Linked DNA regions of Homo sapiens: region 1 is reported to be linked to region 2. The links are microRNA targets in miRTarBase. Many come from high-throughput screens and were not tested one by one. Region 2 holds a microRNA gene; the other region holds the end of a gene's coding sequence.

What was found. Region 2 holds the annotated microRNA hsa-miR-4779 (UAGGAGGGAAUAGUAAAAGCAG, at 1,275-1,296, opposite strand). A microRNA usually pairs through its seed, bases 2 to 8, with sites in the 3' UTR of a target mRNA and lowers its output. Matches are read on the target gene's strand: a 7mer-m8 pairs with bases 2 to 8, a 7mer-A1 pairs with bases 2 to 7 and ends in A, and an 8mer does both.
Region 1: the mRNA of CAMTA2 is a reported target of hsa-miR-4779. Seed matches in the 3' UTR shown: 7mer-m8 at 851-857, 7mer-m8 at 891-897 and 7mer-m8 at 1,029-1,035.

Annotation. Positions count from the first base shown.
Region 1 is chr17:4,966,075-4,969,471 of GRCh38, reverse strand. CAMTA2 (calmodulin binding transcription activator 2) reads left to right here. Exons shown (of 23, transcript NM_015099.4): 21 at 135-322; 22 at 491-565; 23 at 653-1,475. The coding sequence ends at 716. SPAG7 (sperm associated antigen 7) reads left to right here and starts at 1,655. Exons shown (of 7, transcript NM_004890.3): 1 at 1,655-1,752. The coding sequence starts at 1,668. LOC124900387 (a long non-coding RNA gene) reads left to right here and starts at 1,759. Exons shown (of 2, transcript XR_007065587.1): 1 at 1,759-3,071; 2 at 3,153-3,397. RefSeq lists enhancers at 1-577, 1-610, 578-1,255, 1,256-1,932, 1,520-2,019 and 2 more and a silencer at 1,430-1,509.
Region 2 is chr2:86,191,763-86,195,110 of GRCh38, forward strand. MIR4779 (microRNA 4779) reads right to left here and starts at 1,346; the gene lies at 1,264-1,346. All of the region lies in intron 1 of IMMT (inner membrane mitochondrial protein), which reads right to left. RefSeq lists an enhancer at 3,201-3,250.

The DNA of each region.
Region 1 (3,397 bases), not on the chromosome of region 2:
TCTGTGATGATTCAGTCTTTCCTTGAGTGTGTGGGTTACAGAGAGTCTTGCATCAGCCTAACTTGGGTGAGCCTCAGGGCTTTGGGTCTCCGTCCCTCTATTTCAGCCCCTGTCCCTCCTCCCCACCCCTGCAGTTTGCACTCTATAAGAAGATGACCCAGGCGGCCATCCTGATCCAGAGCAAGTTCCGAAGCTACTATGAACAGAAGCGATTTCAGCAGAGCCGCCGAGCGGCTGTGCTCATCCAGCAGCACTACCGCTCCTACCGCCGCAGGCCCGGCCCTCCCCACCGGACTTCGGCCACCCTGCCTGCCCGCAACAAGTAGGGCCCAGCCCCAGCCCTCTGTGCCCACCCACTGCATCCACGCCATTCCCCCTTACTCATCCTCTTGATCATCATGCCTCACTGCCATTCCCTGCCTAGGGTTCCTGGGGGGGCCGAAGGCATGCGATGCCTTCTGTGAGGTCCATCTTTTGTTTCTTTCACCAGAGGCTCCTTTCTCACCAAGAAGCAGGACCAGGCAGCCCGGAAGATCATGAGATTCCTGCGGCGCTGCCGACACAGGTACTCATCCCTTCTCCCCCTGGGCTTTTGCGTTGCCACCCGTCGTGATCCGCCAGTCTCCTCTGACTCCTATCTTTCTCTCTGCAGGATGAGGGAACTGAAGCAGAACCAGGAGCTGGAAGGGCTTCCCCAGCCGGGACTGGCCACATGACCTGGCCACCGCCTTTCTCACCACCCTGGGGGCGCCTCGTGCAGTCTTAACAGGGAGAGGGCTTTCTGGGGCAGGGGGAGCCCCTGTCGGCAGCTTTCCTGTTCACCTTTGTTGGAGCCCTCTGTAGGCCTCCTCCCTCCTCCCCACGCCTTGCTCCCACACCCCTCTCCTCGTCCCTCCTGGTCGTGCCCCGTCTCTTTTGGTCCTGGCTCCAGAAAACCCGCGCCCCACATACCTGCATCTTCCGCTGTGACCTCCGGAGCCCTGCCTGCCCCTGCTCCCCAGCTCCTCCTGCCTGCACCCGACTCGGCCCCCTCCTGACTTGCCTTATTTATTTGTTCGACGCGTCTCTGAATGTATCCGCCTCGGTTCCCACCACTGCCTTCGCTGCGCACGCCCCTCGTGTTTCAGGGCTGACCGTGTCCCCACCCGACTCCGCATGTTTGCGTCTGTTTCCTCCCTCTCTGGCCCTGTCTTACCCCATCACCCGACTCTGGCCACTGACCTCAGGGCCGAAGGGGAGGTGGTGTACATAGGAACGCGTTGCGGAGTCCGCCCCGTCCCCCGAGGGGAGGGGTCTTGTACATACTGTAACATACAGAGTATAGTGAAGAATCTATTTAAGGCGCCGCGGGGAGGGCTGCACGGCCGGGCTTGTGGTTCTCTAGCGCGGCGGGGGCCTCCTGCCGGCTCCACGGGCACTTTCTACTTGTGCATGGGCTTGGTTTATACGAATTGCCATTAAACATCGCTGCACCAGCCAGCCTCCGGCCTCTGTCTGCGGGGGCGGGGCGGGGCCTAGGCCAGCTGGAGGCCGCCATGCACCGCGGGCCTGGGATCTGCGCCCAGGCCAGGCGGGCCCAGGGTTTTCCGCCTCCGACGTGTTTCCGGCCTTAAAGGCATTCCGCCCTTCCCTTTAAGACGCACCGCCCCCTCTCAGTCACTCCCAAGATGGCGGACCTACTGGGCTCCATCCTGAGCTCCATGGAGAAGCCACCCAGCCTCGGTGACCAGGAGACTCGGCGCAAGGCCCGAGGTGAGGATCCCAAATTCACAACCGCCTTCCTTCGCCCGGTTCTCGGGACCATACTTCTCCCTCTTTGGACGATGCCGCCTCCTCAACCTTGAAAGACCCCTCACAGGCCCCTTCCGAGACCCTCAGAGTCCCTAAAAGGGCTGCTGACACGCCCGCTGTTCTTAGCGGACAGTGATTGGCTACCTGAAAGATAGCGCCAGCCTCCTGCCTCTTCTCCCGACCCTGGCCTTCCGCAGTCCTTGTTTCCCATTAGCCGGCCGTCCCGCCTGTCCGCTGCTGACCTGGTCTGATTGGTAGGGTGCCTCCAACCTGCCGCATTCCTGCCCCGCTCACCTCTAGCTCTATTTCGATTGGATTTAGGACACGCCATCTACTGTGCCTTCATCTCTATTGGCTATCTCAACTTAAAGCTCTGCCTCCTCAGGCCTGTTCGACCTTCCTTCGAAACCACCCCAGCCTGCGAATTCCCATTGGTTGCAGGGTCCTCTGTGTGTTCTTGCCCCTCCTGCTTAATTTAACCCAGTCCCTTCTGCCTCCCTCCGACAACCTTTTTCCCATCCGTAGCCTTAAATTCCCGAGCTGCCCGGGCGGATCGTAGTGTTGATTGGAGGGATGAGAATACCCGCCGGGTCCGATTGGCCACTGTCTCCGCCTGCGTTCTCGGAGTAGCTTCCCTGCGGGTGGGCTGGAGTTCGGCGGCCGGCGTAGGGCGCGGCCCTGCAGGGCGGTGGGAGCCTCCCCGGGGCTGCTCGTGTTGCAGCTTGGGATGATACTGGCGGAACGCAGGACCCCAACTCCCAAACCTGCGGACCTTGACCACGGACGAGCCCTGTCCCAGCTCCCCACGTGCCCCAGGGGGACCAGAGCAGGCAGGACGCCTTCCAAGTATTCAAGGGCCGCTGGTTGCCTACGCTTCGTCCCCTTGTTTCTTGAACAACCGTTAGGGACCAGGGGTACCCCTCAGGGAGGCCACAGTCCGGGGCTGGGGCGCTCATTGATGCAGTGATCACACGTAAGTTTAATAACCAACTTGATAAGTGCTCTGAGAGAAAAATAACTGTGAGAGCGGCCACCTGAGGTTCTCCCCCAATCTGCAGTGAGCCGAGATCAGAACAGGTAATTCCGTAAATGAGAGAGAGAAGCAAAGCGTTACAGGCAGAAGAGTCTATTTGAAATCTCTGAGAAAGGAGGAAGCATGATGGGAATGGGGAACTGGAATTCTCTAATGCTCCGATGACTGTCTAAGTGGGGGATCACCCGGCATTGACAGACTGGGAAGCTTAAATGAGTCACTCGCCTGAGGTCACATGGTTAGTTTGGTAAGTGGCAGGGTTTCAAACCCAGGTATGACTGGGCTCGAAGCCTATGTTCTTGACCATAATCTTGTGCCACTTCTCTAGATGCAGAGAAGACTCGAAAACCAGTTAAAGAACAGTCAGTGGGGCCCGGCCTTGTAGCTCACACCTTTAATACCACCACTTTGGGAGGCCGCGGCGGACGGATCGCTTGAGCCCAGGAGTTCAAGACCAGTCTGGGCAACATGGAGAAACCCCATCTCTACAAAAAATACAAAAATTGGCCGGGCTCACGCCTGTAATCCCAAAACTTTGGGAGGCCAAGGCGGGCAGATCACGAGATCAAGAGA
Region 2 (3,348 bases):
AAAAAAATTAGGCGTGGTGGCAGGCGCCTGTAGTCCCAGCTACTTGGGAGGCTGAGGCAGGAGAATGGCATGAACCCGGGAGGCGGAGCTTGCAGTGTGCTGAAATGGCGCCACTGCACTCCAGCCTGGGTGACAGAGCAAGACTCCATCTCAAAAAAAATTAATAAATAAATAATAAATCTTCCTAGGCTGGGCACTATGGCTCACGCCTGTAATCCCAGCACTTTGGGGAGGAGAAGGTGGGGATATTGCTTGAGCCCAGAAGTTCAAAATGAGCTGGAACAACATTGCGAGATCCCATCTCTACTAAAAGTCCAAAACATTGGCTGGGCATGGTGGCATAAGCCTGTAGTCCCAGCTACTCAGGAGGTGAGGTGGGAGGATCGCTTAAGCCCAGGAGATTGAGACTGCAATGAGTTATGATCACACTGCTGTACTCCAGCCTGGGCAACAGAATGAGACCCTATCTCTACACACACACACACACCCTTATTGTTTCTGTTTCTCTGGAGAATCTGAATATATAATCAGAGGTTTGAAAATCTATGGGATGTTTAAAGGGAGGTCACATCCACTTACACAGATTAAGAAAAATTCCACTTTGGGAGGCCGAGGTGGGCATATCACTTGAGCCCAGAAGCTGAAGACCAGCCTGGGAAACATAATGAGACCCCATCTCTAAAAAATCTTTTTAAATTAAAAAAAAATTCATGAACACATTCATTCTTTCATTTATATATGTCATAAACATTCACTGAGCATCTACTTGGAGCCAGGGACTATTGTTAATACTGGAAATACAGCAGTAAATATGGACACAGTTCCATTGTGGAGCTTACTTTTTAAAGGTGGAAACTGTGTAATAAATACACATTATAACATCAGGTAGTGCTAGGAGCTACAAAGTATAACAAAGTAGGATGGGGTAAAGATATAGTGATACAAGGAAGGCAAGAGTAGTCAGAATTCTATTTTGGATCAGGATGCCCTCTCTGAAGGGAAGGTGACATTTGAGAAATTAACTGAAGGGAATAAGTTAAGCAAACCTGTGAGAAGAGTTCAGGGCAAAAGAAACACCTGATGAAAAGGCAGTGAGGCACATGCTGGAGATTACCAGGAGAATCTGAGTGAGGCAGTAGAAAAATGAAATATGAGAAGAGTCAGATCAAGGGCCCATGGTAAGCAGTTTAGATTTTATTTTGAATGTGATGCGATGTCTCCAAAGAGCATGACCTCATGTTTGCCTTTTAAAAAGCCTTTTACTAAATGTCTTACTGCTTTTACTATTCCCTCCTAGAGTAAAGAATGGACTCTAGGAGGGAACAGTAAAAGCAGTAAGACATTTAAGAAGATGGGGTTGGCTGGGCACGGTGGCTCGTGCCTATATTCCCAGCATTTTGGGAGGCAGAAGTGGGAGGATCATTTGAGCCCAGGAGTTCGAGACCAGCCTGGCCAACACAGAGAGACTCCGTCTCTACAAAAATTTTTTAAAAAATTAGCCAGGGATGGTGGCACATGCCTGTGGTCCCAGCTACTCAGGAGGCTGAGGTAAGAGGATTGCTTGCGCTCAGGAGGTCAAGGCTGCAGTGAGCCATGACTGTGCCACTGCACTCCAGCCTGGGTGACAAAGTGAGACTCCGTATCCAAAAAAAAAAAAAGAAAGATGGGGTTTAATAAAGTGGAAAGGATCTTGACAAGTGAGATATTCTGGATACGTTGATACAATCAAATACGACGAGGCTAGAGAGTCACCTGCTTGGGGATTAAAGTTCTGAGAGTTGATGTAATCTCAAATTAGAGAGTCTATAAAGAGACAGGAAGAGATGAGAAGGTGTATATTTCGAGGTACAAAGCAGAAGCAGACTCAGTAAAGGAAAACAAGAGAGATGGGACCCAAAATATTACTTGAGAGAAGCCAAAAGTACAAAGAGCCTCATAAAGCAGCAATGTCAAATGCTACAGAATTAAGGAGATGGTGAGAATAAACCAAAGAATTTTACAAGACAGCAATTTCAAGAAGCTTAGACATCTTGATTCAGAGCTATAAAAGGGTTCATTTTTTATTACCAAGTTTTAATTAGTTTTCTTAATTCCCAAATGGGATCCCAAAAAGTTGACTCTGAATTAACTGAAAAGGAGGTCATCCAGGTGGGCCTGGTCTAATCACATAAGCCTTTTAAATCTGGGTCTAGAGAGGAAAGACCAAAGTAAAAGAAATTTGGAAGTCAGAGAGGCAAGCTCCTGGTAGCCTGCACGAAAGCAAACATCAATGTTATGAATGGCCTCTAGAGGCCTTGAGGCAAGGAACTGTAGGCAGGCTGTAGAAGCTGGGAGCAGTGGCTGGCAAGAGGCAGCAAGAAAAGAAGTACTTCAGTCCTGTAACTGCAAGGGACTGAATTCTGCCAACAAACTGCATGAGCCTGGAAGAGGACCCTGATCTCCAAATGAGAACCACAGCATGGCTAATACTTTGCAGCCTTATGTGACCTGGAGCGGAGAACACAGATCATCCGTGCCCAGACTTCTATCCTACAGAACCCGTAAGGTCATTCATGGGTGTTGTTTTAAGCTGCTAAATTTGTGGTATTTGTTACGCAGCAATAGAAAACTAACACAGGTTCGTTCCACTTTCCTATGGAAGGGGCTGCTTCTGTTACCTAGCAGCAAATAGGAAGAGAAGCGAACTTGAAAAAACAAAGCTTGACTTTTATGATCTCTAACTCACTATTCCTAGGGATTCTGTTCAATTACTGCTTGAGTCACAGTACTTGGTTTGCTATCTACATTTTGCCAAAATATCAACTTCCTGAAAATCATGAGCAGTGGAAACAGGCTTTTTAATTTTCAATTTTAGAAAGTAACTTTGGCAATTACGCAAAACTAGAAGTAACTGGGTATTTAGGCTCCTTGAATGTCAAAGTAGTCCCAGCGCCTGGAGACACAGATCCCTGCCCTAATCTCAGAAATGAGCCACAAGGTCATGACTCCTGTCTTTCCTTGAAGACCAGGAGTTTCAGCTCCACAAATGAAAATCTTTCGCTTTTGTTTGGATTAAGAATAACTCAGAAGTGTTCTCAGCTGCGAAAAGAAAGGCACTCCCTCCCAGATAATTACAACCTTGACCCCTAAAATGTGGACTCTCGCTAGAAGTCCAGGCACCTCCTTATTAAGGATGCAACAAGCCGCCGCTCCGCTCGTCCTGACGGGAACTGTAGTTCTCGCCCGTCGACCTTCAGCACTGAAAACCTATCGCGCGCCCAACCGGCGACCCAGACGCCAGCAGCCAGGATTGGTCCTGGACGGGGGCAGCGCGGCCCTGATTGGACTACATGCCCACGAAGCCGCGCC